Homo sapiens: one gene and its partners. The protein of the gene in region 1 purifies or fractionates together with the protein of each later gene. This does not show direct contact. Each region holds a gene or a part of one and is shown in the gene's direction. Other genes may lie near its edges. The genes, in order: NEIL3, HMCES, NNT, BICRA, RSBN1L, RBM25 and SFSWAP.

Region 1 (4,358 bases):
AGTTAGCATTTTTTAATATTTCCTTCCAATGAAAGATAGTCTTCCAAAAGGGGAACTATTTTTTATAAAAGTTTAGTAAGTATACTGTGTTCTAAAAGGAGGGGTCTGAGGTGCCTGTAGTGACCTTTCTGTTAAAGAACGTGGATGGATCTCAAACAGTCATGCGAGATGGTGTTTATTTTTATTTTTATTTTTTTCTTTGAGGTGGCGTTTTGCTCTTGTCGCCCAGCTGGAGTGCAATGGCACAATCTTGCCTCACTGCAACAACATTCGGCTAATTTTTTTTGTATTTTTAGTAGAGATGGGGTTTCGCCATGTTGGCCAGGCTGGTCTCGAACTCCTGACCTCAGGTGATCTGCCCACCTCAGCCTTCCAAAGTGCTGGGATTACAGGCGTGAGCCACTACGCCTGGCGTTGTTCTTTAACTAAAAGTCCTAAAAAGCATACTTGCTACTTTGTATCTGAAATTCAAAAGTTGTAATTCTAACTAAGAAATACTACCAGAGCAGATATATTTTATAGGACTTCCAGCTACATGTCCAGGAGAACACCCTCATTTTTGTCACCTGTGATACAGAAATTTTAATACATAACGTCATCCTCTCTTTTCCTTAATGATTATCGGCAGCTCCTGAAACAATTTTCTGTTGACCCTCCTTCCCCCTTTATCTGGCCCTCCCAGTCCCTTTATCTGGAATTCCTAACTATGGCAACCCGATGTTATATCTCCAACACAGGACACATTTCTCCACCATTTTCTTTTCTCAGCTGCTTTCTTTTTTCCTTCAGAAAGCAGCTGACTTACATCCAGCATTTTTAAATAAGTGGAGAATTTATAACATATAAATGGAGGGTCGTCCTCCCATGTATGTCTTTTCTTGCCAATGGGAGACAGGCAGAGAAGGAGTTACAGTCATCCCTCGGTATCCTCAAGGGATTTGTTCCAGGACCCCCAGGATACCAAAATCTGCAGATGCTCAAGTCCCTGATATGAAATGGCATAGTCCTTGCATATAACCTATGCACACCTTTTCATATATTTAACTCATCTCTGCATTACTTCTTATAATACTGAATTCAATATAAAGGCTGTGTAAATAATTGTTATACTGTATATTTTGTGTAATTTTTTTATTGTTTCATTATTTTTTGTTTCCAAATATTTTCGATCCAAGGTTGGTTGAATTCATGGATTGGGAACCTACGGCTATGGAGGGATGTACTTTGGTTGGGACCTAGAGTAATCTCAGGTGGAATTCTGAGATTCACTGGCTTTTCCTCTTATTAGCTGTGCCTTTACTGATGGGTAGATGCCTTCTCTCAGCGGTGGGGTGAGGGACCATTTGGTGTAAACTCCTAGAGCAACCTGTAGGAATCCTTAAGCTTATTTCATAACAAATTCTGAGACAGTCTCTGCTCAATAGATGTGTTTACTCCAAGTTTCCTATTCCAGCTCTAAATTTACCATCAGTTAATCCTGATGATTTATCCTTGACTGGTTTTTTTAATGTCTTGTTCATAATCATTTATGATAACTGGTTTAACTTTTGTTCATATACTCACATTTGAAGTAAGCTAAGGGGGCTAAACTTTTAACTGACTGGATAAATCCACCACGTTTTCACTTTAACCCTAATTAGTGCCTCATGATAGAAGTTCATTAAGGAGTTAATTAAGAATGTTTGAGTTGGGAGGCTGTCCTGGAACAGAAAATCATTTCCAAACAGTCTTTTCTGTTCCGTGGCTTAAGTGGAAAGTAGAAGTGATCATCTTAAAATATTGTGGCATTTGTTGTACCTAGATGAAATATCTTGGCATATTTTTATTTCCTTAATGCTTTGTAGAAAATCTCAGACATTTTAACTAATGAATTAGGGATTTAAAAAAACATTAATGTAACCTTAAATTTAAATGATTTCTTCATAAGCCATTAGTAATAGGATCATATGATTAATCACAGTGCACAGCATTACTTAGGAATGCTGCAGCCTGTGTATGTATTGAATATAAGAACACCAGGACTGAGACTCCACAATCAATCAAGATCAACTAGCAGAATAAATGTCAAGTGATGAAATAAATTCACCCAGCAGCCCTTCTGCACCCAGCTACTTTACAAGGAATAAATTGCAAATTACTGTCATTTATTTCATTTTTCTCCTTGTCTGGCAGCTATAGTGTTCATCTTGTGGACAAGATGCCTAGCAGAAGCTCACAACATAATACTATTAAAGCAGGTGGTCCATTCATAATTTATAGCCAGTTTATTTTTTCTTTAATATTATATGATAATTACTTTGACTTTTGTTCTCTTAATTACTGTTCTCATTACCACACAATCCATGCAGTGTTGATGAGGCATATTTTCTGATTGGTCTTGAGATAGATGTGTATTCCATCCAGCTATTGGCTTATAAATTAGATGATTGAACCCATTTTTAAACAGTTAAGAATAATTACTAGAAACAGTTTAAGTTGTCGATCCAATTACTGTAAACACAGAGCAAAACACAGTGATGCAGTTTCAAAGAATGCATGTGTTTTAGGCTGAAATTTTTCCTGCGTTGATGCAAAGGCTCACATAGGAGGGTGAAATGACAATAACAAAATCATTAATATTTTCTCACATTTGCTGCCGTCAGGGATGTTGAAGATCTGTCTTTAATCACCAGTGCAAGTACTGACACCATGTCCTTGTCTCTTGGTTGCTTCTTGGAGTTTTCAGTCTCAGGATTTCAGAACCACCTGGGGCCGTCCAGAATGAGTCATTTCACTTTTGTTTGTTTTAATCCTCGAAATAATCCTGTATGACAAAATCTACATTCAGTGAGACCGATTAATCCAAAAAATTCAGACAGTATTTTTATTATAATGAATCGCCCTATCTATAAAATGAGTTAAACCAAGCTTGTCCAACCATAGGCTTGTGGGCTGGACGGCTTTGAATGCAGCCCAACACAAATTTGTGAACTTTCTTAAAACGTGAGTTTTTTGTGTGATTTTTTTTTTAAGTTCATCAGCTGTCACCAGGGTTACTGTATTTTATGTGTGGCCCAAGACAATTCTTCTTCTTCCACTGTGGCCCAGGGAAGCCAAGATTGGACACCCCTAAGTTAAACTGTGATAAATTGACCATGAAAAAATAATATTCACTTTAAAATTACAGATCTGTGCTTAGTAATGTCTTCCTTCTTGATGATAGTTTTTGTCTGGTCTCTGTTCAGTTTTATTTATTAATAAGTATTGAGAATCTATTATGCCTCGGGCATTGTTCTTGATTCTAATGACATGTACATGAGCAGACTATAGCCAGCAGGGCCAAATCCATCCCACCACCTGTTTGTGTAAAGCTTTATTTACATTTGTTTAGATATTATCTATGGCTGCTTTTTGTGATAACAAACTTAGACCGTAAGACCAGCAAGCCTAAAATACGTTATCTGAAAAGGTTTGCCAGCCCCGATCTGTTGTATTAATAGATCACTTATAACCCAGAATTAATATTCAAAATCATGGTCATGATCACGAAAATGAACAATTCTGTATGCTACATTTAAGTAAGAAATCTGCTATATTTTAGAAAGTTTTTATAAAACAAAGAGGAACTAAGATGTCCTCAGTTAATCAGAACATTTAATTATCCTGGATAATGTTGTCTATCATAAAATTAAGATTAGCTGTGCATATTTAGAGCCAGTGTGATACAGGTGGCATTAGTATCTTGGTTACGTTACTTCAGTGCTTCATAACTTAATGTGCATATGAATCACCTGGGAATCCTGCTAACATGCAGATTCTGATTCTGCAGGCAATCAGGAGTAGGGGTGGATATGTCTGTGTTTTCTAACAAGCTCCGGGTGATGCTGCTGCTTCTGGTCAGTGGACCACACTCTGAGTACCAAGAATAAGATCACACGTGGCTATGTTTTTGTTGTTGTTTTTTGTTTTTTGTTTTTTTTGAGAAGGAGTCTTGTTCTGTTGCCAGGCTGGAGTGCAATGGCGCGATCTCAGCTCACTGCAACATCTGCCTCCCGGGTTCAAGGGATTCTTCTGACTCAGCCTCCCGAGTACCTGGGATTAGAGGCACCCGCCACCACGCCCAGCTAATTTTCTATTTTTAGTCGAGACGGGGTTTCACCATGTTGGCCAGGCTGGTCTTGAACTCTCGACCTCAGGTGATCCGCCCGGCTCAGCCTCCCAAAGTGCTGGGATTACAGGCGTGAGCCACCATGCCCAGCCTGTGGCTATGTTTTTAATTTAATTTTTAAGGGAAGAAATGGAGTGGAAGGCAGAAGTGAAGGCAGAGAGATGACATTTGGGCCTCTCCTTTCTACTTTAATCCTACCTTCTACCTTGGC
Region 2 (4,358 bases), on another chromosome or scaffold:
GTTACCTACATCATGATAAGTCATTAAATTGTTTTTGGCTGGTTGTGGTGGCTCACACCCACAATCCCAACACTTTGGGAGGCTAAGGTGGGCAAATCACTTGAGCCCAGGAGTTCAAGACCAGCCTGGGCAACATAGCGAAACCCCATCTCTATAAACAATACAAAAATTAGCTGGGTATGGGGGGGCGTGTGTCTATAGTCCCAGCTACTTGGGAGGCTGAGGTGGGAGGATGGCTTGAGCCAGGAGGTAGAGGTGGCATTGAGCCAAAATAGCGCCACTGCACTCCAGCCTGGATGACAGAGCCAGACCTTATCTCAAAAAAAATAAAAAAATTGTTTTCAAGTAGATTCCCTGTTTAAAAATAATCTTGAATTCTTTATATTTCAATACTCCTAAATAATGTAATAAATACATATGTTAAATTAGGTTAGAATTTCATTATGATCTCCTCACTAGATCTTCTCTCCGTGGCAGGATGCAGACTCATCTGAGCGTATCATTGCTCCCATGCGCTGGGGCTTGGTCCCTTCTTGGTTCAAAGAAAGTGATCCTTCCAAGCTGCAGTTCAATACTACCAACTGTCGTAGTGATACCGTAATGGAGAAACGGTCATTTAAGGTAGGTGGCTGGTAGCTATTAGTGCCCCGTATACCTCAGAAATAAGGTTCCAAAGGGTGTTTCCATCCTAGCCTACAGAGGACAACCAAAAATAAATAAATAACACAAAAAAGAATGTTCCCAGTTGTTAATGTGGAATGCTATTTTGTTACTACATAACAAACCACACCAGACTTAGTAGTGTGAAACAAAATGATAAACATTATCTCTCATATTCTCTGGGTTGACTGGGCTCATCTGGGCAGTTTTCACTTGGAAGTTCTCATGTTGCAGTTAGATGGCAGCTGAGGCTGGATGTCCAAGATGACTTCTTCACCCACATCTGACCCTTCAGCTGGGATGACTAGAACAACTAGAAGGCTTTCCATATGCCTAGCTCGAGGGTGTCAGGGTAGCCAGGCTTCTGTTACGGTGACTCATTTACCCCAGAGCTCATGATCCAACAGAGCAGGACAGAAGATATAAGCCTTTGTCTTACAGCATCACTTAATCTTGGCAGTCATACAGCATTACTTATGCTGTATTCTTTTATTGTTATTGTTTAATTTTTTTTTTTAAATAGAGACAAGGTCTGGCTATGTTGCCCAGGCTGGTCTCAAACTCCTGGGCTCAAGTGATCCACCTGTCTGGGCCTCCCAAAGTACTGGGATTACAGGTGTGAGCTATCACGCCCGGCCTACTTCTGTTGCATTCTATGGGTTACACAGAGCCAGCCCAAATTCAGTGTGGGAGGTGTCTACATAGGGTGTGAATACTGGGAAGCATGCTTCATTGGGGAGGCACCTTTGAAGACTAGCTATGACAAGTACCTATTTGTTAGAAAAGAGGTGATTGCTTTTATGTACATTATTTAATCTTTTCAACATCTATGTGAGTTGTGACTTTCTTTATACATAAGAAAAGAGAGTGGCCGGGCACGGTGGCTCACACCTATAATCCCAGCACTTTGGGAGGCCAAGATGGGCGGATCACGAGGTCAGGAGATCGAGACCATCCTGGCTAACACGGTGAAACCCCGTCTCTACTAAAAATACAAAAAATTAGCCGGGCGTGGTGGCGGACGCCTGTAGTCCCAGCTACTCGGGAAGCTGAGGCAGGAGAATGGCTTAAGTAAACCCAGGAGGTGGAGCTTGCAGTGAGCCGAGATCACGCCACTGCACTCCAGCCTGGGCGACAGAGCAAGACTCCGTCTCAAAAAAAAAAAAAAAAAGAAAAGAGAGGTACAGAGAAATTAAATAACTGTTTTAAGGTCATACATTGGCAGACCTCAGATTTTATGTATTTATTTGTTTGTTTATTTATTTTGAGATGGAGTCTCATACTTTTGCCCAGGCTGGAGTGCAGTGGCATGATCTTGGCTCACTGCCACCTCTGCCTCCAAGTTCAAGTGATTCTCGTGCTTTAGCCTCCCAGGTAGCAGGGACTACAGGTGTGCACTACCACGCCCAGCTGATTTTTATATTTTTAGTAGAGATGGGCTTTCACCTTGTTAGCCAGGCTGGTCTCGAACTCCTGACCTCAAGTGATCCTCCCATCTCGGCCGCCCAAAGTGTTGGGATTACAGCCGTGAGCCACCCGCCTGGCCCAAACCTCAGATTTTAATTCAAGTTCTCCAAGTAATGGCAGCCTGTGAAACATGATTGTATCACTAAGACCATATCTTGCTCACATTTTCCCTCAGGTGCCTCTGGGAAAGGGAAGACGCTGTGTCGTTTTAGCAGATGGATTCTATGAGTGGCAGCGATGTCAGGGAACAAACCAGAGGCAGCCATACTTCATCTATTTTCCTCAAATCAAGACAGAGAAGGTATCATTATCAGCATTCACAATATATATTTGGAAAGGCACAGGGAAACAAATTAATCCAAAGGACATTTTTTTCTTCCCCATAGTTTTATTTATTTATTTTAAAATAACAGCTTTGGCCCAGTGCGGTGGCTCACGCCTGTGATCCCAGCACTTTGGGAGCCCAAGACGGGAAGATTGCTTGAGCCTAGGAGTTTGAGACCAGCCTGGGCAACATGGTGAAACCCCGTCTCTACAAACAATACAAAACTAGCTGGGCATGGTGGTGTGTGCCTGTAGTCCCAGCTACTCGGAAGGCTGAGGTGGGAGGATCACTTGAACCCACGAGATAGAGGCTGCAATGAGCTATGATCACACCACTGCACTGGGCGACAGAGCAAGACTCTGTCAAAATAAAATAAAATAAAGTGAAATGAAATGAAATGAGCTCATTGAGAGATAATTCACCTTAAAATTCACCTTTTTAAAATGTGCAATTCAGGAATGTTTTAGTATGTTCAAAGTATGCAATTATTACCTCTATTTTTAGAATATTTTTATCACTCTAGAAGGAAACTACATATCCATTAGCAATCACTCTTTATTCTCCACTATGCCCAGCCCCTGTCAAACACGAATCTACTTTCCATCTCTGGATTTGCCTATTTTGGACATTTCATAAAAACAGAATCATAGAATATGTGGTCTTTTGTGACTGGCTTCTTTGATTTAGCATAATGTTTTCAAGATTCATCCATGTTTGGCATGGATCAGCACTTCATTCCTTTTTGTAAGAACAGACCACATTTTGTTAATTCATTCATCAGTTGATAGACACTTGGATTGTTTCCACTTCTTGGTTATTATGAATAATGCTGCTATGAACATTCATGTACAAGTTTTGCATGGATTTGTTTTCATCTCTCTTGGATAGATGCCTAGGAGTGGAATTGCTAGGTCATATTACAACTCTACGTTTAACATTTCCTTCATAAAACTTTCACTGTGGCTGGGCGCAGTGGTTCAGGCCAGGCACGGTTGCTCATGCCTGTAATCCCAGCACTTTGGGAGGCCAGAGCAGGTGGATTACTTGAGCTCAGGAGTTCAAGACCAATCTGGGCAACATGGCGAAAACCCATCTCTACCAAAAATACAAAAAATTAGCTGGGCGTGGTCCCAGCTACTTGGGAGGCTGAGGTGGGAAGATGACTTGAGCCCAGGAGGTGGAGGTTGCAGTGAGCTGAGGTCGTGCTACTGTACTCCAGCCTGAGTGACAGAGTGAGACCCCATCTCAAAAATGAAACAAAAACCCTTTCACTGTAAGACATAATTTGAACTGTTCATGTTAAAACATTATCAGGAGATTGAAAACAAATCTGACATGCCAACATCATGTTTTATTTTTAATTAGATTATTTAGTCTGACACTGCTAAAGCACCTGAGTTCTTAGCAGTTTGCTTGTTAAAATTGGGAATTGTTTGTTCACCTGTCATCTCATTTTGGGGACTGGAAATAGTGTTACCGAGTAAAAGGGACTTGCTACCCAATGTGCTAGAAGCCAATACCATGATACTGAGTAGCTGGTCCCAGCTACTTGGCAGGCTGAGGTGGAATGATAGCTTGAGCCTGGGGTGGGGAGTGGAGGGTGCAGTGAGCCGAGATTGCACCACTGCACTCCAGCCTGGGTAACAGAGAAAAGTTTTTTTTTTTCTTCTTTTTTTTTTTTTGAGACAGAGTCTCTCTCTGTTGCCCAGGCTGGAGTGCAGTGGCGTGATCTCGGCTCACTGCAGCCTCTGCCTCTCGGGTTCAAGCGATTCTCCTGCCTCAGCCTCCCAAGTAGCTGGGACTACAGGCGTGTGCCACCAGGCCCGGCTAATTTTTTGTATTTTTAGTAGAGACGCGGTGTTAGCCAGAATGGTCTCAATCTCCTGACCTTGTGATCCACCCGCCT
Region 3 (4,246 bases), on another chromosome or scaffold:
AGGGGCTGTGTAGTGTGAGGTGTTCAGTAATATCCCTGGCCCCAACCCATTAGATAGGTCCCCTCTCCAATTGTGACAACCAAAATGTCTCTAGACATTGCCAAATATCCCTCGGAACTAAATTGTCCCCAGTTGGGAACCACGAATTATTAATCCCTAAAAGACAAAGCAGCAACTCCTGACCCCTACAAAAAGTTTTAAATCAATAACTTAGTTTAAAATCCTTACTAAGTGGGATCATTACTAATCTCACTTCATTGTACCTTCAGTATCTGGAAACCGTCCCTATGGTCACACTTACCACGGCTCATTATTATTTTAAAACATGGGGCTGTGTCATTTCCTGTCTGTGAGTTTGGACTGCAGTGGGAATCCATTAGTTGAATGACCTTCTGTGTAGGTTAATCACAAGACAAGTTCTCAAACTAAGGGTTTCCCTGCGGCTCATTTCTTTTTAAAGTTATGGAATACCTGTTCTGCTTATACCTTTTAGATTCATAATTATTTTTCTTGTATCAAAATTTCAATTAATAGAAATAAATGACGTTACTGACACTTCATGATGATTAAGTTTTGGGCAAGTGAACCATTTTACACTCTATTTTTTATTCCTCCCACTTTTAGTCAGAATACACCTGCAGAATAAGTAACAGAACTGTGTGAAAAGAACGACTAGGTCATTACGGTTAATAGTTTTAGAAAAACAGCCGAGGCCTGGTCTGGAAAGCTCACAACCTCCACCCAGATGCTTTCCAGCCTCGGGGATATTCGTACTAGCAGTGACACTAGCCAGCTTCCTCTAGGCTGGCTCTGATGTTGGAAGACAAGCACGCAGATGTGTGTTACTTTTCAAGCCTGGACATCGTTTCTGAGGAATTTAACTCCACCTCTCCTGCCAGAATGGAAAATCAACGCCCCCCATTCCCGCCCTTCACCAACCCCTCTCCGCCTGCCCCTTTCCCTTGGGTCCTCTCTGTTACAGAAGTTCTGATTTTTCCTAGCGAGCTGGAGGAAAGGCAGGTACCCGGAGTGGAGTTATATTACCTGTTTCTTTGTTCTGATGGGACCCCAGAGAGGACATCACGCTTTGTAACTGGTTCTTCAAGGGGAGAAGCAAATGTGTCCCTGAAAACTTCAGCTGCCGCGTTTGGCACCAGGTTTGATTGACAAGGACTGGCGGAGGGAAAGCGCGGAGGCTGGGCTGGGGGCCGCAGGCCGAGGCAGAGACAAAGAGGTTTCGCCTGTCCCCGAGAGTGGAAGGGCCCCTGGGGGTAACTAGCCTTTGAGCTCAAAGGGGCATTTCGTGAGGTCGCCTTTTGGTTCGGAGAGCGCGCGGCGATCGGGTGGAGGGGGCCTGGCGGGAAGAAAGCTGGGGCGGGGAAGGGGCGCGGGCCGAGGTGGGAGCGGAGCTGCAGTCACGTGGCCGCCCGCCGCCGCGGAGTTGGGGCTGTTCTTCCGGGTTGGAGGCGCAGCGCCGCGGGGCCCAAGCCCGGGTCTGCCAGCGCGACGTCCTCTCGCGGCCCTCAGGGCACAGCCCAAGGCTGTCAGCCTCCCGGCCCAGGTGAGCGCGACGGCACTGGCGGGTGCGGGCAGCCGGGGCGCGCGCCTAGGGCGCAGCTGGGAAAGGGGCTCGGGCCTTTCCTGAAGACCACGGCCCTCGCCGGGAGAGAGACCTGTCAAAGAGCAAAGCGGGGCGGGGTCGGCGGTGTCCCGGGCGCAGGGTGCATTGGGGTGTCCGCAGGCCGCAGGCTTAGGTGGGGAAGAAGCACCGTGCCTCTTGGTGTCCCTTTCTCGTCTCCTGCTGGGGCGATGTCGAAGGGAGTGGGCTGGTGGATTTGGGAACTGGGTCCCCGAAGAGGGCAGGGAATGAGGCGGCAGCTGTGCAGGTGCAGATATTTGCAGCTTTGGGGGACAGCGAGAGTCGTACGGGGTCATTTCGGCCCTCAAGATCGGGGGTGGTGGAGAGGGAGGTCATAGAGGACTTTCGATGGGCGGTTCATCCAGAGAGGTGGCAGCTGGATGCCCTTGAGGTATGCTTGACCCTTGAGGGAGTTCGGAGAGGGTGTCCGGCTGGGGACATAGGAGATTGCGAGCACAAATTGTGAGTGTGAGTTGGGGCGGTCTGGCGGTGGTGGGTACAAGTTTCTGGGGCCTAGGCTGGTGAGGAGGAAGAGACAGCGGAGAGGGCGACCTGGGCAGAGCTAGTTCAAACTCAACAGCCGGAATGACTATTTGCAGCCGTGGCCAATCGGCTTCCTAGGGAGGTTATAAATAGCGGTCTCGTGCAGATGCCAGCGGGTGGCAGTTAGTTGCCGAGCAAGGGACGGCACCGGTGGCAGTAGCCGTGACACCAGTGGCTTTGGGTGAGGTCACGGCGCCTGCCAGCCGAAGCTGGCTCAGTAGGGTATTGTGTCCTTGCTGGTATGTCTCGCTTTTAAAAGCGTGACTTGTTTATGGTTGCCGGTGTCCTTTATTCACCCTGTGGCGCCGGCCAGTCCTTAGGTGGTCTGTTTGTCAGGAGTCTTGTAGGACAGACTTATTCGGAGAAGCGCGTGGGGCTTAGGTGCCTACCTACTCTTCTTATTTAAAGTGTGCCCCTTTTCTTCATTGCACCCCTTTTATTTGTAAACCTTGACTTTTTATTAACAGACAGTTTAGGATTGCCTTCTTTCCAGCAGGTGCGCTTAGGCTGCTTACCTTGGTGATAGAATCAGTTTTCCACAAGGCTACACAAACATTTCCTTTTCAAAGGAAATTTTCCGAAAATCCTTGGAAAATGTGCTCAATAGGTACTTAGGCTTAAGGTCACCTAGCCCTATTCATTCAGTCAAAAATACTGACTTCCTCTGTGTTGTGCAAAGCACTGGGGGAGAGTAATACCAAAGTGAATATAACAGCTGATAAGGATATTCTCAGTCCTGGCAACAACCCTGAGAGGTAGGTGCTGTTATTTTATTTTTTCAAGTCTCGCTCTGTTGTCCAAGCTGGAGTACAGTGGCACAATCACGGCTTACTGCAGCCTGGAACTCCTGGGCTCAAGTGATTCTCCCACCTCAGACTCCCAAGTAGCTGGGACTTCAGGCTTGCACCACCATGCCCTGCTAATTAATTTTTTTTTTTTAGCAATGGGGGTCTCACTGTGTTGGCCAGGCTAGTCTTGAATTCTTGGCCTCAAGCAGTCCTCCCCACTAGCCTCCCAAAGAGATGGCATTATAGGCGTGAGCCACCACCCTGGGTGGGTGCTATTATTCCCCATTTTAAAGATGAGGAAATTAAGTACAGGGAAGTTAAGTGACTTCCCAAGGTCACACAGCCAATAAGTTGCAGAGTGGGGCTTCCAATCCGCAGATCCAGAGCTGACTCTCTTAAATATCTGTGGTATCCTCCCTCTTTAGGTTGGGTGCTTTCCCTCAAGGATTTTAATATCTAATAGGGGAAATAACCCATATAAGTTACATTAAACATACATATGAAAGCAATGCTTAAAAAGTTGTGCTTTTGGGCCGGGCGCGGTGGCTCACGCCTGTAATCCCAGCACTTTGGGAGGCCGAGGCGGGTGGATCATGAGGTCAGGAGATCGAGACCATCCTGGCTAACAAGGTGAAACCCCGTCTCTACTAAAAATACAAAAAATTAGCCGGGCGCGGTGGCGGGCGCCTGTAGTCCCAGCTACTCGGGAGGCTGAGGCAGGAGAATGGCGTGAACCCGGGAAGCGGAGCTTGCAGTGAGCCGAGATTGCGCCACTGCAGTCCGCAGTCCGGCCTGGGCGACAGAGCGAGACTCCGTCTCAAAAAAAAAAAAAAAAAAAAAAAAAAAAAGTTGTGCTTTTTTCCCCTAATTTTGAGTTATAAAGTTTTTTTCTTATTGCTTCAAAGCCACAGGAACACATGGATAAATGAGAGCTTTACAGTGAAGATGGAGGAAAATGTGATGATTAGGATGGAGTATTATCTTTTGTATAAACCTGTACAGGTCAATGATAAGATAGTTTAAATATTCTCTATCTTTCAGGGCCATTTGTATTTGGTTTAGACTTAGTGATATGTATTGCTTTTGCCAAGAAATGACCTCCTGATCTCTGCCCTGTATGTTCACAGTTGAATCAAGTGAAATTTTTCACAGAAATGGGCCTATGAAGGCTTTGGCCCTACTGATGTCTGATGCCCCTGCCAAGGATCTGCTGAACATCAAATTACCATTTTCCAAGTAGAAGGAACAAATTTTCCAGATTTCAGGCCATGAAATA
Region 4 (5,053 bases), on another chromosome or scaffold:
AAGCGATTCTCCTGCCTCAGCCTCCCAAGCAGCTGGGATTACAGGCGTGCACCACCACACCCAGCTAAGTTTTGTATTATTAGTAGAGAAGGGGTTTCACCATGTTGGCCAGGCTGGTCTCGAACTCCTGACCTCAGGTGATCTACCCTCCTCGGCCTCCCAAAGTGTTGGGATTACAGGTGTGAGCCACTGCGCCTGGCCGATAAATTATAAAAAAAAAAAATACGTTGAAGTAAATATTATGGGTAGTACCGCCAAGATACTAGAACACATGTTAAGGCTTAAAAAAACAGAGGCCGGGCACTTTGGGAGGCCGAGAATAGCTTGAACCCAGGGGACGGAGGTTGCGGTGAGCCTAGATCGTGCCACTGCACTCCAGCCTGGGCGAAAGAGCGAAACTCCGTCTCAAAACAAAACAAAATATAACACAACAACAACAAAATCACAATCTGTCTCGATTACTCATTTATTCAACCCGCATTCACCTACTGTGTGCACGAGCTTTTCTAGGGCACTGGGGAGGCAGAAGGGACTAAAACAAAGTATAAATCTCCCTGGGCTGCAAGCATCGGGAGGGCAGGTCCGGGGGCTCTGTGTCCCCACTGGGCCCCCAGCACTGCGCAGCGCACACAGTGGGCGCTCACCAAGCGCTCGCTAAGGGCAACGCGTGAATCCGTGTCCCGCCAGCAGGGCGTTTACGGCCTGGTGGGGCGGAAACGGACCCGACACCACCGCGGCGTCCTGGGGCTTCTGGGAATCCCATCAGCGCGGCCAGAGCGGCCGGGGACAGGCTCCGAGGCAGGCCCGACCCGCCTCCCCGGCGCCGCCGTGGCTCGACGGAGACCAGCTAGGGTGAGTGATCGAGCCACGCCTGGGGTCCCGGCCTGTCACCCCGAAGTCCCCGCCGCCTTCCACCCTGTCAGGCTCCAACTCTGGGCTCCGGCGCGGTCCCACCTCCGGGGGGAACTCCCCTCCATCCCCTCCATTTCCTTCATCCTCGACTCCCGCTATCTTTTCGGACCTGCGGCGCTCCCCCTGGACGCGTCCTCCCGCCGGACGACCGTCCTCCGCCTCAGGGGACGCGCCCAGGACGCACGGCGCCCCCTCCCCAGCCGGACCGGCGGTCTGGGAGCGCGGATCCCTTCAGCTCCCCCGCGCCCCAGCATCCGGATCAGGGCTCGAGGCAGTCGACAAACTACACCCGAGCTCGAGCAGGCGCGCCCCTGAACCCCCGGGACTGGGGCTGGGGGCGGGGGCGGCGCCGGCGCGGAGGGCCCAGTCCCCGGACGTCCGCAGCCTCCCATTGGCTCCGGGTCCCGCCGCTCGGCCTGGCGGGGCCGGGGCTGGTCCGCCCGGACGCGGGGCGGGGATTCCTGAAGCCCCTCCTCCGGCGAGGGCGGAGGGAAGAGGAGGAGGAGGAGGAGGAGGAAGGGGGTGGGGGGCGGAACACAAAACCTGAGAGGTTTTTTTTTTTTTTTTTCCGTTTGCATTTAATTAAAAAAAATTTTTTTTTTTTTTGCATACCCGAGGGGCGCTCCCCGGAACGGGCGCGGGCCCGGGGCGCGCGGGCCTGGGCGCGGGGCGGCGGCGGGGGCCCGGCAGCGGCTGCCGAGCGGCCGCCATGCGATCAGGCAGTGCGCTGACCGGCCCGGCCGGCCGGCCCCTTCTGGGTCCTCCCTTTGCAGCCCGTGCGGGGCCGTCTCGGAGACCCCGCGCCGACGGCTGCTCAAACATCAGGGTGAGTTTCTCACAATGTAGCAATTTCTCTTTAAATCTCTTAACTCTCTCTACCTGCGAGTCGGGGCTGTGACAGGGCGCAAAAGCGAGGGGGGAGTGGGGGTTGGCGGCGAGGGTGTGTGTGGGGGGAGCCGGAGCCGGGGCCGAACCCACCCCCGCGACACTCTCACACTCAGCCCCCCAGCCGGGGCGCAGCGCCCGCTGCCTCCTTTTTTTTTTTTTTTTTTTTTTCCTGCTCGGCGCCCACCGCCACCGGCACCCCCAGCCCCGCGTCTCTTCCACCACCGCCGCCGCCCCGATCCTATGGGGACCCCCCCCCAACCGGCTTCCCTGCCCAGACCCGGCGCCCAGTGCCTCCCCGGCCCTCCCGCCGGCTGCCGGGGATACAATGGAGCGGCGGAGAGAGGAGACCTAACGTTCCACGGGGGGAGGGGCGCGGAGACCCCCTCCCCGTCCCGGCCCCCTCCCCTCGCCCCGCTCCCCGCCTTTCGGGGAAGGCGAAGGCCACCGGGCAGCGGGCGGTGATCTCCCGGCCGGAGGCGGAGAGCCTGCATCTCCCCGCCTCGCTCGGCCCCTGCGCCCCCTCCCCAAATCCCTCCCGTGGGTGTCGCGGACAGTGGGGGGCCCTGGAAAGCTGGGGAGGGATGGATGGGGAAGGAGGCCACCGGGGCTCCCCCCTTCGCACCGCCCCTAAACAATGAAAGGAGTTGACTTGACCCCCAGCCCCCGGCAATAGAGGGAGGTGACCCCCTCCCCCACCCCCAGCTGAGGCTCATCCCGGAGGGGGCCGTTACGGGGGTGGGGGGGGTGAGCGCCTCCTGTCACTTCCCGAGGTTCGGGGCGGCCCCCCATCTCCTACCCCTCGGCCTGGGAACGGGAGGCACCAGGCCCGGCCGGGGCACCGCGCTCGGGTGGTGACCTTTAGACAAAGGCAGCCCTTTCCCCGGGGTGAGCCCGGACGAGCTGGGCCTGCGGCCTCCCCGGGCCCCTGCGGAGGGCAGCCAGGCCGCGGGCACCCGGAGGGAGGGATGGAGGAGGAGGGAGGAGGGATGGAGCCATCTGGTTTTCCCATCCCTGGCTGCCCCTCGTCTGCTTCCCCGACTCCTGTCACGGGCGGCCGCGGGGAGACGAGGGACCAGGGGCTGCTTGGGCCTTGGTGCGCGGCCAGCCGGGAGGACCGGGCAAGGAGCCGCGGGAGAGCTAGGCTCGGGCTCGGGCGCCGGCGGTGATTGGGAGGCACTGCGGCTTCTTCCTCTCCGCGCCCCTTTGTTTTGCTTTGTGGTTCTGAGCAGCTGAACTTCCCGGGAGGTGGGGTCAGAGGCCGCGGTGTCAGCTCTCCCGGGGAGGCCCAGGTGACAGGTCCTAGCTCTCTGGTGTCCCCATCCTGGTGGGCTGCAGTCTGTGCCCAGGCCCATGTCCTGACCATCGTCCCCTTTTGTCACCCCCCCCCCACACACACACCTACCTACCCACCCCATAGTATAATACAGATCTAGGGGTGCCTTTCTCTTACACCTCTTTACGGAGGGCACTTGAAAGGGAAACTAGAAACATCCAAGGCATCAAGGCCTGAGATTCATGATAAGCTCTCTGTGCTTTTAACCTCTCCCAGCACCTGGGGTGGGTGTGGGGGGTATTGTCAACTCTGACCTGCCCTGGGTCATGAGAAAATGGGAAGACAACTCAGGAAGCACCCCCTTCCCATGCACTGGTAGGACTTTTGGGACATGTTGACCTCCCTTGCCTTCCCTCATAGCTCCCCGCTCAAGATGGAAATATTAATAACAATATCAAACTAGGGAGCTTTATTCCGCTGCTGCTAAGTACATTACACGCTGGCCACAGTCCAAGGAGGAAATAGAGACGGGACAGACATTCCCGTTTTCCAGACAGGTTCATGGAGGCTCAGAGAGGTTAAGAAGCTTGCCCAGGGTCACACAGCCCTGGGTCACACAGAGCCCCAATTTGTAACCTCCTGGAGTTTTTCCAGCTTGGCTCAAAACTGTTAAGCCCTTCTTCTGTCCCACCCTTTGGCATTTTGTCCCCCTGACTTCAGTGGACCTGGTTCGGAAATGTAGATAATATTTAGAAGAAGCGGCCAGATTTTTTTTTTCCCTGGGAGCTGGTTTTGAGAAGGGGTAAGATGCACCTCGAAGTTGGGCTGAGGGCAGGATCATTTCACTTGTGGCTGGAATGGAGAATTGTCTGCAGGAACTGAGAACTGAAGGTGTGTGAGGAGTGGGGGAGGGGGAGCCCCAGGCCTGGCCAGTGATGGGCTCGGGGTACCTGGGAGCTGGCCCCACTGTCATCTTCTCCCTTCTCTACCTGAGCGGGGGACTTGGCCCCATTTGCTGCTACTCAGCCCTGAAGTAGAGAAGAGAGAAGCTGAACTGTTTGGGAATGTTGATGTCTGGTTGTTCCTATGCCCTGTGACCCGCTGTCGCTTTGCCACACCATGGCCCTTTGATGCAGCTAGCGGAGAACTTTCTTGCCTGTTCTCCTTGGCATGATCCACTCTGTAACCTTAGGCAGGTCATTTAACTGCTGGTCCTGTTTTCTCATCTGCAAGTGGGGGTAATTATAGTTCCTTTAAGTGACCTGGAGGTGGGTAAAAGTATTATCCAAACGTGTCATTCATATTTATCATTCAGCAGGCCGGGTACGCAGTGTGGGCACAGGGGAGGAATGTCAACTGGTGGCATTTAATTTTTTTTTTTTTTTGAGACAGAGTCTCGCTGTGTTGCCCAGGCTGGAGTGCAATGGCCTGATCTTGGTTCACTGCAACCTCTGCCTCCCAGGTTCAAGCGATTGTCCTGCCTCAGCGTCCCGAGTAGCTGGGATTACAGGCACCCACCACCACACCTGGCTAAATTTTGTATATTTAGTAAAGACGGGATTTCACCATATTGGCCAGGCTGGTCTTGAGGTCCTGACCTCAGGTAATCTGACTGGCATTTAAATTTAAGGCCAGGTGCCATGGCTCACACCTGTAACCCCAACACTTGGGGAGACCGAGGCTGGAGGATTGCTTGAGCCCTGGATTTTAAGACCAGCCTAGGCAACACGGTGAGACCCTGTGTCTACAAAAAATGAAAAAATTAGTTGGGCATGGTGGCACTCACCTGTGGTCCTAGCTACTTGGGGGTGCTGAGGTGGGAGGATTGCTTGAGCCTAGGAGTTTGAAGCTGGGGTGAGCCGTGATTGTGCCACTGCTCTCAAGCCTGGGCAAGAGTGAGACCCTGTCTCAAAAAAAAAAAATAAATAAAATAAAAAATGTAAAGGTGAGTGGCAGAATACCTTTGCCCCAGAAGAATTC
Region 5 (4,358 bases), on another chromosome or scaffold:
GAGACAATCTGTCATGGGATTAGAGTTTTTTTTTTAAAAAAGGGAAGAAAAACCAATATGAGTAATCTAAATTGTGATTGTTTCTTTCATGCTACATGCAATATAAATGAATGGCTGTTTCAGAAATAGAAACGTTTTGGTTTTATTTGAACTGGAGGGAAGGAGAGCAAGAGATGGGAAACTGACATAATTCTTGTGTAGTGTGTACATGCGACATCTCAGGTTCTAATTGTAATGGCAAAGCTAAGTGGTGGGCCATGAAATAACACCTCTTAACACTTTAGGAAATTAGGTTCCATGTGTTTATCAGCTCTTTGTAAACTAAGTACTAAAGGACTTAAGAAGTACAGGAAGGATTCTACTACAAATGTTTAAGACAAAGGAATGGCAGTTTAGCATTCCTAAACTAAATTCCAGGAAAACTCGCCTGGGAAATTACACACCCATATTTTAGCCATGGCTGTACTTATCTGGGTTGGGCAAGCCCTTTAAACTTTCTGGGCTTCAGTTTCATCATCCATAAAATAACATGTTTAGACAATGTAGCCAAAGGCCCCTCTATTTAATTTATTTTTTTGAGACAGCCTCACTCTCTGCCCAGGCTGGAGTGTAGTGGTGTAATGTGGAGCCCTGACCTCCGTGGGCTTGGATGATCCTCCCACGTCAGCCTCCCAAGTACCTCGGATTACAGGCACATGCCATCATGCCCAGCTAACTTTTGTATTTTTTGTGGAAATGGGGTTTCACCATGTTGCTCAGGCTGGTCTTGAACTCTTGGACTCAAGTGATCCTCCTGTCTTGGCCTTCCAAAGTGCTGGGATTACAGGTGTGAGCCACTGTGCCCACCACCACAGGCCCCTTTAAATAGTTTGTAGCCAGATTCCTTTTTTTTTTTTTTAAAGCCTCTTGATTTTCAAAAAGTATTTCTTATTGTGAGGTGCTAGGGCTATCCCACTGAGAGAGGAATCTCTGAGCTGTGTGGTTAGGTTAATTATTTAATCAGTAACTCAAAGGTCAATGCTGCAAACCTACACTGAAATTCAGGGTCCAGGTAAGCTGTGGAATGTGACAAGATTTCTGATACCACATAATCTATAGGACATCTCTTCTTTTATTACTTCTGTTTGCTTGGTGTTTTTACCCTATATGTACATATATCTTTTTCTTCCCTTTCTCTTTAACCTTGTTCCATTCCTTTTTCTCTTTTCCTTTTAAACTTTTTGTTCCTTTTCTACTTCTCTCTAGTAGTTACATCATGGAATTAGGTTGCATTTATTATTGGACTATATTTAAAAATTACCAAATATTACTTAAATGGTTGCTTCAAGTTTAATTTTCAAAGCACATGAACTAAATGCATTATTTCTCCTTTCCTTTCCTTCCCCTTCCCCTTCCCTTTCCCCTTCCCTTCCCCTTCCCCTTCCCTTTCCCCTTCCCTTCCCCTTCCCCTTCCCTTTCCCTTTCCCTTCCTTTCTTTCGATGGGGTCCTGCTATGTTGCCCAGGCTAGCTTTGAAGTCCTGGGCTCAAGCAGTCCTCCTGCTTCAGCCTCCCAAAGTGCTGTGATTACAGACGTGAGCCACCCACACCCAACCTAAATGCATTGTTTCTAAAGAAATTTGACAAGCCTTTTTGAAAAGGGGGTGTGTGGTGAAATTTTTTTTTTTTTTAATTTTGTTCTCAACATTCCATGGACAGTGGCCCTCAGTTTCCTTCTTCCCTCTCTCTGTCTTTTTTTGTTTGTTTGTTTTTGGTTTCAGATGGAGTCTCGCTGTGTCATCCAGGCTGGAGGGCAGTGGTGCGATCTCGGCTCACTGCAACCTCTGCCTCTCAGGTTCAAGCAATTCTCATGCCTCAGCCTTTCGAGTAGCTGGGATTACAGACACACACTACCATGCTAGGCTAATTTTTTGTATCTTTAGTAGAGATGAGGTTTCTCCATGTTGCCCAGTCTGGTCTCAAACTCCTGAGCTCAGGTGATCTGCCTGCCTCAGCCTCCTGAAGTGTTGGGATTACAGGCCTGAGCCACCGTGCCCGGCCACCGTCTTCTCTTTTCTCTTCCCCTTCCCCTTCACCTCTGTCTCTCGCCTCGCCTCCCCTCCCCTCCCCTCCCCCCTTTTTCCCTCCCCCTTCCCCTCCTCTCCCCCCTCCCCCTTCTCCCTCCCCCTTCCCTTCCTCTGCCCCCTCCCCCCTTCTCCCTCCCCCCTTCTCCCTCCCCCCTCCCTCTCCTTTCATTCTTTGGAGTCTCGTTCTGTCACCAGGCTGGAGTGCAGTGGCGTGATTTCGGCTCACTGCAACCTCCGCCTCCGAGGTTCAAGCGATTCTCCTGCCTCAACCTCCTGAGTAGCTGGGACTACAGGTGCGCGCCACCATGCCCAGCTAATTTTTGTATTTTGTAGAGACGGGGTTTCACCGTGCTGGCCAGGACGGTCTCGATATCTTGATATCTTGACCTTGTGATCCGCCCGCCTCGGCCTCCCAAAGTGCTCGGATTACAGGCGTGAGCCACTGCGCGCCCAGCCTTGTTCTTTCATTTTAAAATACTTTAGTCTCTGGTTTAAGCCAACAACCTCTTCAAGAAACTGCTGAACAGAAATATGTTTTGATTTTGTTTTGTTTTGTTTTTAATTATCATTAATCAAAGAGGTATCCAGTTTTTAAACTTAAATTTAATTGTTCATTTTTATAGATTCTTATGAGAGCACTTGCTTATTTAGTCCGTTAACATCATATGATCTATATGGTAGAAGGAAGAATAACAAATGATGAATATAGTGAATCATACCTCTAGCAGGGTATAGGGACAGAACCATCCAAGCATAATTATTTTCTTGGTGTGTTTGAAACAGTTTTTTGAAGCAAAGTATATCAATATATAGGGATATATTCAATATTATGTATTTCAGATGCTTAAGTATAAAGCTGTGTATGAAAGTGTGTTTGTCAGGGGAACAATATTATTATTAACATACACTTGAAGATACATTTTGAAAATAATTGCAATCTGCATAATTATTTATCTCCAGTGTACACTGCCATGGGGGACGCTATCTAGTCTAAAATTACAGAGTCGAAAAGATAGTGATGATGGTCCCATCATGTGGGTTCGTCCAGGAGAACAAATGATCCCTGTGGCTGATATGCCAAAGTCACCTTTCAAAAGGAAAAGGTATGTTGTATACACATTTTTATTGGAGGGGATGAGTGTTTGTATGTTGGGGTGTGTATGTTAGTTGAAAATTGGAGGAAGGAGGAATGCAAAGTTTAGAGCATAATTGGAATATAAATTTAAAAATAGCGATACATGCTAATACAATTTGTTATAAAACCTAAAATGTAAATAAAGCATGAGAAATGTAGGCAAATGACAAGAAATTGTAATGATGGATGGAAAAAATGTCATAAGATATAAACTATTTTAGAATAAATGTAATATTCAGAACCTATACTAAGAAGACTAAAATGTTTTGTGGAGGATATAAAGTAAGATCAGAACAAATGGAAAGCCCTGCTGTGTTCTGGATTGGATAAAAATGATAGTTCTTTAAAATTTTCTGCATTTCAATTGGACTAACACTTCCAGTCCTGGATAAAATTATTTTAAAATTCATAAGGAAGTAAACTTTTCAGTGAAAGAGAAGATTAGTGAGAGGCAGCTTATGATACAGGATATTAAAAATTACTATAAAGTTCAAATAGATCATTGGAATAAGAGTCCAGAAATAGATCTAAGTATATTGGGAACTTAATATATGAGATAGGTGGGAAGAGGAAGATGTATTTAATGAATAATGCTGGCATATTTGGCTCTCATAAAAACAAAGGCAGAGCCCCTACCTCATACAAGAAGTAAATTAGAGAATTAAGCATCACAGATAAAACAGTTAAAATATTAGAATAAAATTGTTTAAGCCTGGAGGAGACCTTCCTAAGCAAGACCAAACAATGCAGTGGCAATAGTATTTGGGGGGGAAGCGACATCAACAATGAGGTTCAAAATTATGATAGACTGGACTAAGACATTTGGAACTCATGACACACCAAAGTTAATGTACAAAGAGCATTCTCAAGTGTAAACAACCCAGTAGAAAAATAACCTCAGGTAGTTAAGTTTATTTTAAAAGAACTATGAGATATTTTTATTCATTATATTGGCAAAAATTATGAATATAGCATTAATATTATAGGCTGGTAGGTATGTGAAGAAACAATTTTTTATATATTGTTGACTGGAGGATGAGCTGCTGTAATTTTGTGAAAGTAATCTGGCAGTAGATCATAAAATTTAACATAAAACTCTTTGATCTAGCACTCCTACTTTTGGGAATCCCAAGGAATAAAAACACGAAAGGTAAATAAA
Region 6 (4,358 bases), on another chromosome or scaffold:
GGAAGAAGACAAAAGAGACCTGATATCTCGAGAGATCAGCAAATTCAGAGACACACATAAGGTAGTATTCTTGTCTTTTCACTTGATACCAATCTAGACTTTTTACAGAATCCAAAGCAAAGAGACAAAAAAAATCAACCTTAAATTAGAATATAATTTTAAATGTTTTTTATAGGTTTAATTGATATTTAGATAGAAAAAAGAAACAGAAGACCAATACCATATTAAAGTGGTCCTTGACATGTTGTGCTTAGTTTTTTCAGTTACTGACTATTCTGCAGTCATCTCACTTTAATATGAATAGAAGCTAATTTTATTTTTAGATTTCAACATAAACATCAAGGTCAGACTTAAATTAGATTCAGGGGGCAGCAGGATAACATACACTGTAGTGTATTTCTGGGGGCAGTTATTTAACTTGATCTTAGGAATACCTTTTCTTTAGAGCTGAGATTAAAATTTACATTTTATATTTGTATAGATTTAAGTTGAGTGGGGGAGATTTTAAACAGTAGGTCAGTGGTTACCAGACTTACCAAATTTTAGATGCATGGAAGAACTGTAAATTCCCATAAAGCTAATCTATTCATTGACCCCCACCATTATGATAGAGATCATATGGTGACTAATGCAAGATGAAACTCTCAGCTTGGAAAGTAACAAGGAATAGGATGTAAGTATGAGCTTCTGTTTTTTATTATATTTATGGATGCCCCCTCAGAAAAATATGCAAAGGGGTAACTGGCTTGGAAATGGGTATTTATGCATAGTAAATCCCACTCACGAGTTTTGCCTATTTGAAGCTTCTCTCAATGACAGTGCATCTGTGAATGTTCGCTGGTGTTGAAAATGATGCTTTTGAACGGTGCAATGCAAACACTGCATGAAATGTATTTTGATGGTCGAGATAATAAGGTGTTGCTGGTTCTTACTGATAGACTGAGAGATCTTTAACTCAGTGAAATGTTAAATGTTCATTTTCTCTTTTATTCTTACTTTTTCCCATTGCTTTCAAAATCTGCAGTTCACAAATAATGCCAATGAATCAGTGCTGCTGAACACTTACTATCCAGATGCCCAGCCCTTGCTCACAAACACAATGCTTTTTCAAGAATTAAATGTGTCTAAGAGCACAAACATAATTCTCCCAAAATTAATTTTGAGAGTTGAAAAGGTGGTCTATGGGAAATCATTTTAGATGAATAATTTTGGTTAGGTATAATACTGAAATTCAGGACCGAGTAAGCTTAAAAATGGTATATGGTTGTGTGTGTGGTTTACCCCCTTTTTGTTTTTATTTATTTGTTAAACCCTGTCATGTTATTGGTAAATTATGAGGAAATCATGTTTTAAGAAAAATTCAAAAATATATTTGCTTTAAAGTTTGGGAATCTGTTAGGCATTTTACTGCCTTAGTATTATTTCACTGGAGGGAATGTTTTGAATTTTCAGAATGTCTTTTCAAAATAAAAAGAAATCAAAATGAAAAACCAAAACAGTTGTTTTTTATTGGGTGGTTTGGCTAAAAGGGTTGTTTGAAACTCCAGTAACAAAAAATGAGCTCAGTGAACCTTTGCATGTTTTGGTATGAGTTTATTAAATAACCACAGACTGTCAGGGTATCAGCGTGGCAGGGGGCGTCCATTTACAGCACGGATGAGTCTGAAGAGAGAATAAGGTAAGATTTATGATTTTTTAATCTGTCCTTTCCTCTTCATGACTTTCTTACATAATTTTAGACTCACCTCATTTCCCTTCTCCAGTCTTTCTTTAAAAATATACATGTATGTTTACATGTATACCTGTATTTGTATACATGTGTGTATATATATATATATATATATCTCATATATAAACTTCAGGAAACATTTAGTATGGACTAGATTCACTCACTTTTTCATTTACTTAGAACCAAACTTTTGAAATGAGTTCTGAAACAAATGGTTATTTATATAACTGAATATAAGGAGCACAGTGAAATAAGCAAGAATTAAAAATTGAGGAATTCTACAGGAAAAATTAGTATTGGAACAGCTAAAATATTCTGTAAGTATCTATTTCAGAAATAAACAAATTTCTTTATAAGTGTATGCCATTGAGGTAAGTTTTATATAGTCTAGCCTCATTTTACAATATAAATTTTTATATTCATTGGAACTGTTTCAGAAATGAGATTTTTCCCCCTTTAATAGCTGTTAGTTTCTGTCCTCTTTCTATCATATCTTATTTCATCCCTTTGTAATTTCAATGTATTCAGTTTTGACTTTGCCCGTATTCTACTTCGATATAGACTGGCACAGCAACTGAATATATTGCTCATACATTAGCTTTCCTTTCATAACCTGCTATAAGTTCTCTGATCCATGAGGAAGAGAAAAAGAGTATCTGACAGGTAAGATTGCTTTTTAAAGTTGTTTTAAATGCATTACATGACTGAGAAAAGAAAAATGCACATTTTATTGTTGCAGTTTAAAATTTCATTTTGGTGAAACTAAACGTGAAACAAAAGGGATAAATGTGTTTTGTTTTGTTTTGTTTTACCTGTTTGGGGTATTTTTTTCTGAGTTTGTGTAGAAACCGTGTGGTACACTGGTAATCTTGTCAGGGTACAAACTTGGTCTGACTTTGTTATTTGGTTTATTTGTGAACCATGTACTTGCTCTTCCTCCCAGAAACATAGCTTGTAGGCAAGGTTAATCCAGTGTTGGCGATCCATGTCCTAGCACAGCATCTGTAAGTTAATGCACAATCGTTCCTTCCAAGGATGGATTTATCATTGTAAATATATTTTCATTGTCTTACAGGCATAATGGGCATAAGTATGTTGCTTTTAAATATTTTAAATTAAACTATTACAGTTACATATATTTTGCTTGAAGTGAGTGATTTTCAAACTTTTTGTATTTGGTGGGCTGTCCATCTTGTAATGGTGGGAGTAAATGTTTCCATAGATGATAAGGCAGTTCTTGGCTGAATTCAGCTTGTGTTTCTTTTGGAGGGTGGGCAAATCAGAGGGCAGAGATTATTTAGTTGCATTATAGGTATTCTTCTATACCACTTGCCCTTTGAAACCCTCAACTTGAGGTAATGTGCAGTCTGGGGTTTTAATTAGTATTAATAATCTTGTGGATTTACAGAAATCTATAATGCACAGAGTTGAGTTTTAACCAATGATCGTATTCATAGAAAATATTTCGAACCACCACATTCTTCATGGTCATTTTAGTTAGTACATAGTCATTGAGTGGCCAGCCACACCTGACACAATCTCCCAGCATCCAAGATTGGAGATTCCTGGTCTGTGTAGAGTATATGGTTTTGCACGAAATCTTTCTAGTCTTGTGATTGCTTCAGTTTAATTTGTCACATAAAACCACAAGTATTTAATATTAATGTATCAGTGGTTTGGTGTTTTTGTTCCCAGTACTGGGCTTTGCGCCGGGAAAAATCTGAATACTGGAGCTACAGAGTTAACTCTAAAAGTGCTTTTATTGGTTTCTAGAAACTGGAAGAAGAGAAAGGCAAAAAGGAAAAAGAAAGACAGGAAATTGAGAAAGAACGGAGAGAAAGAGAGAGGGAGCGTGAAAGGGAACGAGAAAGGCGAGAACGGGAACGAGAAAGGGAAAGAGAACGTGAACGAGAAAAGGAGAAAGAACGGGAGCGGGAACGAGAACGGGATAGGGACCGTGACCGGACAAAAGAGAGAGACCGAGATCGGGATCGAGAGAGAGATCGTGACCGGGATAGAGAAAGGAGCTCAGATCGTAATAAGGATCGCAGTCGATCAAGGTAAGGCTTTACAGAAGTTACTGTTTCCTGATAGCTTTAAGAAAACTATCGGGTAGTCCTCCAGAGTACCATTTGCATTCATGGAATGAGAACTTTTGTGTGTGTGTGAGACATTCTCACTCTGTCACTCAGCCTGGACTGCAGTGGCTGAGCAATCTCCGCCTCCTGGGTTCAAGTGATTCTCATTCCTCAGCCTCCCAAGTAGCTGGGATTACAGGTTCATACCACCATGCCCAGCTAATTTTTTGTATTTTTGGTAGAGATGGGGTTTTGCCATGTTAATCAGCCTGGTTTTGAACTCCTGGCCTCAAGTGATCCGCCTGCCTCAGCCTCCCTAAGTGCTGGGATTATAAGCGTGAGTCACTGTGCCCAGCCTGAGAATTTTTTTAGAGACAACATGGTCTTTGTCTGTCTGTCTGTCTGTCTGTCTCTCTCTCTCTCTCTCTCTCTCTCTCTCTCTCTCTCTCTCTCACACACACACACACACACACACACACACACACACACACACACACACTCTCTCTCTCTCTCTCTCTCTCACTATGGGTAAAAGTAATAATTTTCAACTC
Region 7 (4,358 bases), on another chromosome or scaffold:
GGTATTTATGTATTTGGTTTGTGTGAATGTAAGCTATGATATTTAACTTTTCAGAAAAAAATAATAATTTTTTGCAAGTGGCATTGAATGGTTGACCAAACCATAATGGTAAGAACTGCCAGTGAAGTGGGTACCATTTTTGCTATTAATGGATTGTTTGCCTTTAGTTATAAATGTTATCTTACTGTGGAAAGGAATTTAGAGTTTGTTAAGATAACTTGAGTTTAAAAGTAGGTGAGATATGACTATCCAAATTAAATATAAATCTGGGAAGAGTTTTTATACTTGTTTTAATATTTTTGTTTATTTTAATCGGTAAGTATGTGTGTGTATATATATATACATATATAAAACATCACACACGCACACCAGTCTAGACGTTAATTTCCTTTTATTGACCAGCTTGTTCACATTACAGATATGATGGACGTGGTCACCTGCATGACCTTTCTGAGTACGATGCTGAGTATTCCACGTGGAACAGAGATTATCAGCTGTCTGAAGAGGAGGCGCGAATAGAGGCCCTGTGTGATGAAGAGAGGTATTTAGCCTTGCATACGGACTTGCTTGAGGAGGAGGCAAGGCAAGGTACTGCTCAAGACAAACTTACTTCAGCAACAAACTTTTTAAAATTTTTAAGTATTTAAAAATTTACTCCCATTCATTTTTTTATACTCACTCTTTCTGATATTATCTTGACAGTACCCAGTGGATTGGAAAAACAGGAGTCTTTGCGTTCTGAGAGGACCTCAGGATAGTTTATATATAGAGCCACAAAGAATTTTCCCAGCTTTTGAGGGCAGACTGGGATTTGAAAAAAACAAAAACCAAACTCTTTAACTGTTCTTCTTTAACAGTATCGTATAAATAAAATTGATGTTCTTGTCTTTGCCGTAACAGTCTTTAATACAGTTCTTAATCCCAAAATTTTCTCAGCAGGAAGAAATTTTCCACAAAAGACGTGTATTCAGCTGTCTGTGGGTAAACATGTACTGACAAAAGTACATAATGATAGATATAAAGTGTGAATTTTTAAAACTATTTTACCTCAAAAGTAGGTTGAAAAAAGTATGTTGTATGCTTTACTGATAGCTACAACTTTAGAAATATATAAAGTTTTTCTCAGTAATTTTCTATTTTTGTTGATAAAATTCTCATTTTTATTCAAGAGGAAGAATACAAGCGATTGAGTGAAGCACTAGCAGAGGATGGGAGCTACAATGCCGTGGGGTTCACTTACGGTAGCGACTATTACGACCCGTCAGAGCCGACGGAGGAGGAGGAGCCTTCCAAACAGAGAGGTGAGTGGGGAGCTGCCTGGACTGCTGGTGTAGGGCTACACGTGTACGCACAGGCTGCATGCACCGTGGTCCAGTCTGCAGAACACATCTCTGGCACTCATGATAGCACCACTATGACCACAGGAGAAAACGGGAGTGATATTCCTTCTTTTGGTAAAACGAAGTTAAAAACTAGAATGATTAATGGAGGTGGAAAGTGAATGCGTTGGATTATTTATTTCTCATTGATTCGGGTAACAGAATTACTCATTCAGGATTATTTGTTTCTAGATTGGTAACATGTTCATTAATATCCTCAGGGATTCATTCTTGAGGCAGTGAAAGAATAGGTGTTAACTGGGATAAGTTAACATCACCGCCCTCTCACTGACCTGCTTCCCCATATCCCTCCACAACTGAGACAGTGACACATGCCCAGTGGAAGGACACAGTGAGGGAGTTTCTACTCCCCAGAAAACAGCACAGCTTCCTGGTAGCCTTGATGCCACCTAGGGCATATACTTACCACAGTATTTTAAATTAAAGATTTGGAATTTATGCTTTTCTGGATTAACATGGGAAACTTTGAATATAAAAAATAGTGCTGCTGAAAAACCTGGGCTCGTGTAGTATAGACACAAATATCCTCAATCACTTCACTAAGCGTCGAGAGCTCCACTACCACAGCGCTGCATCATGGTCAGTCGTTAATTAGCAGTAATGCTAACATGAACCTGACACCTTAAAGACGGGTCAGTATATTCAGGATATTCTGTTTAAAAAGAAGAAGAACATTAACTTAGAAACATTCAAATGTTTACATTACATCAAATGGAGATTTAATTGTAGAGCTAATTTAATCTGTTATTCTGAACTTCATCGGTTTCTCCTTAAGTAACACTTTTTATCTTTTTAAATTTTTTTATTAAAATACACAATAATTTAAAAAAAGAGATGGGGTCTCACTGTGTTGCCCAAGCTAGTCTCAAACTCCTGAGCTCAAGTGATCCTACTGCCTTGGCCTCCCAAAGCACTGGGATTACAGGCATGAGCCACCACATCCAGCCAAGTGACACATCTTTTAACAAGTATGAAGCAATTATAGCACTTTAGTAGTAAAGCAAAATGATGTTTGCCCTTCCATCCTGTGACTGCACTATGGTTCTACCCATCGGCACTCTCCAAGGGCTGCGATCCTAACGGAATGATAGGACGTGGGGCAAACGCACACACCGGCTTTCCTTTTGCCCTGTCTTTAGTCCTGCTCCTTACTTTGTGGGCACAAGAATTACTGTTGCACAGCTCTATTTTATGAGCTTTTAGAGAAACTTTCAAGTGTAATTGTAATTATACTGAGTTAAAGGCCAGTTAAGGTATTTAAGACTTTTTGCATTGACTTTCAAACCTACCCATCCCTCAGAAGTTACGATGCACTAGAAATGTTCTATCAGGTCTAAAACGTAAACACCCATTTATTTATCCAGAATAAGCTCTCCTTCCTCGGGTTCTGGATAGTTCTGATTTTGTTGTCTTATCTCTAAGCCACACACATGAGTTCAGCTTTCTATCTGTGGTGTTTTTATCAGAAGGAAGGAATAGATACTATAGCCACTTCACAAATAAAGAGTTGAAATACAGTCAGCTTATTGGGTCCACATCTGTGGATTCAACCAACCACAGATCTAAAGTATTGGAAAGAAAATAACAAAGTTTTATTGGAACACAGCAATGCTCATTTGTTTACATATTGTCTGTTGCCACTTTCGCACTTCAGCAACAGAGTTGAAGAAATGAAACACCATATGGCCCACAAAACCAGAAATATTTATTAATACTGTCTGGCATTTTATAGAGTTTGTCAGCCCCTATTCTAGATGATGGACCATTGTCTCGGCGTAATTATTGGGCTAAATGATGTTCAGTTTGTTATAATTATTGAATCTTGAGAACTTCAGCATGACTTAGCTTATCATCTGAGTATTAGTTTGCTTTCCCCTTAAGATAAAGTTCTCTTTAGTATTTTACAATGTTACTTCTTTTCTTTCTGTAATCGTGTTCTCAGAACATTGCCTTATATACTGATTAATTTCGTTAATGGAAATTGGGCCCACATAAAACTTAGAGCTTGACATTTCGTGTTTAACTTGCATTAATATAAGTGAAACACCTAACACACACACACACATACGTGCATATTGTAATAGAATCCAGTACCACTAACAGCCCCATTGAGCGTCACATTCTGTTAAAATAAAATTTTTTTTCCTGAGCCATCAATATGTCTACGTATGTCTTGATTTTCAAAATTACTGTATTGTATTGTTTGTTAGTATTTTAAAGCCTTGTGATACTAGCCAAAAGCATTTTGATGGTGCCTCCATCTCTGATCTTTACTATTTTCAGTCAAGTTTTTATCCTTTAGATGTTCATAATTTTTCATCATTATTCTATATCCATTTTTTTCCCTCTTTTTTAGGGGAATAATGGGGCGGGGACAGGCCCTCACTGCTATATATCCATTTTTTAAACAAAAGGTTATTTGAATTTATTTAAATCTGAGTTTGTAGTGCAATGGTTGGTTTTTATTTTGTGCTACTAAAGCTGTTTTTTTGTAAATAAAGGTATATATAAGAATAGACCAAATCTGTTTAACCCATCAATCCCAAAAAGCTATTTCAATTAAAATGCCTTGATTTTTATGAATAACTTAACATTAAGGAGAAGCTATTTGCCTAGACAATGTTTTAATCATTTTTTTCATTTTAGGAAAATATAGTAAAAGTTGTATTTTTAAATTTACTTTGTTTTACTTTTTTGAGACAGAGTCTCGCTCTGTCACCCAGGCTGGAATGCAGTGGTGCGGTGTCAGCTCACTGCAACCTCCACCTCCCGGGTTCAAGCAATTCTTGTGCTTTAGCCTCCCAAATAGCTGGGATTACAGGCGCCCGCCACCACAACTGGCTAATTTTTCTATTTTTAATGGAGACAGGATTTCACCATGTTGGCCAGACTGGTCTCAAACTCCTGACCTCAAGTGATCCGCCTGCCTCGGCCTCCCAAAGTGCTGGGATTCCAGGC

The links.
Region 2: the proteins of NEIL3 (region 1) and HMCES purify together in Homo sapiens (affinity purification with mass spectrometry; one large-scale study listed by BioGRID and IntAct). This does not show direct contact.
Region 3: the proteins of NEIL3 (region 1) and NNT purify together in Homo sapiens (affinity purification with mass spectrometry; one large-scale study listed by BioGRID and IntAct). This does not show direct contact.
Region 4: the proteins of NEIL3 (region 1) and BICRA purify together in Homo sapiens (affinity purification with mass spectrometry; one large-scale study listed by BioGRID and IntAct). This does not show direct contact.
Region 5: the proteins of NEIL3 (region 1) and RSBN1L purify together in Homo sapiens (affinity purification with mass spectrometry; one large-scale study listed by BioGRID and IntAct). This does not show direct contact.
Region 6: the proteins of NEIL3 (region 1) and RBM25 purify together in Homo sapiens (affinity purification with mass spectrometry; one large-scale study listed by BioGRID and IntAct). This does not show direct contact.
Region 7: the proteins of NEIL3 (region 1) and SFSWAP purify together in Homo sapiens (affinity purification with mass spectrometry; one large-scale study listed by BioGRID and IntAct). This does not show direct contact.

What each region holds. Positions count from the first base shown.
Region 1 is NC_000004.12:177,354,368-177,358,725, forward strand, and holds part of NEIL3 (endonuclease 8-like 3), read left to right. Parts: intron 1-2,627; exon of another isoform or gene 2,628-2,803; intron 2,804-4,358. UniProt on the Homo sapiens protein: DNA glycosylase which prefers single-stranded DNA (ssDNA), or partially ssDNA structures such as bubble and fork structures, to double-stranded DNA (dsDNA).
Region 2 is NC_000003.12:129,288,377-129,292,734, forward strand, and holds part of HMCES (abasic site processing protein HMCES), read left to right. Parts: intron 1-477; coding exon 478-621; intron 622-2,302; coding exon 2,303-2,428; intron 2,429-4,358.
Region 3 is NC_000005.10:43,601,734-43,605,979, forward strand, and holds the start of NNT (NAD(P) transhydrogenase, mitochondrial), read left to right. Parts: upstream 1-1,446; 5' UTR 1,447-1,561; exon of another isoform or gene 1,562-2,937; intron 2,938-4,246. UniProt on the Homo sapiens protein: The transhydrogenation between NADH and NADP is coupled to respiration and ATP hydrolysis and functions as a proton pump across the membrane. May play a role in reactive oxygen species (ROS) detoxification in the adrenal gland.
Region 4 is NC_000019.10:47,607,431-47,612,483, forward strand, and holds the start of BICRA (BRD4-interacting chromatin-remodeling complex-associated protein), read left to right. Parts: upstream 1-1,703; 5' UTR 1,704-1,738; intron 1,739-5,053. UniProt on the Homo sapiens protein: Component of SWI/SNF chromatin remodeling subcomplex GBAF that carries out key enzymatic activities, changing chromatin structure by altering DNA-histone contacts within a nucleosome in an ATP-dependent manner.
Region 5 is NC_000007.14:77,765,637-77,769,994, forward strand, and holds part of RSBN1L (lysine-specific demethylase RSBN1L), read left to right. Parts: intron 1-3,024; coding exon 3,025-3,167; intron 3,168-4,358. UniProt on the Homo sapiens protein: Lysine-specific demethylase that specifically demethylates methylated lysine residues of proteins.
Region 6 is NC_000014.9:73,099,690-73,104,047, forward strand, and holds part of RBM25 (RNA-binding protein 25), read left to right. Parts: coding exon 1-61; intron 62-3,502; coding exon 3,503-3,789; intron 3,790-4,358. UniProt on the Homo sapiens protein: RNA-binding protein that acts as a regulator of alternative pre-mRNA splicing. Involved in apoptotic cell death through the regulation of the apoptotic factor BCL2L1 isoform expression.
Region 7 is NC_000012.12:131,713,653-131,718,010, forward strand, and holds part of SFSWAP (splicing factor, suppressor of white-apricot homolog), read left to right. Parts: exon of another isoform or gene 1-418; coding exon 419-588; intron 589-1,169; coding exon 1,170-1,301; intron 1,302-4,358.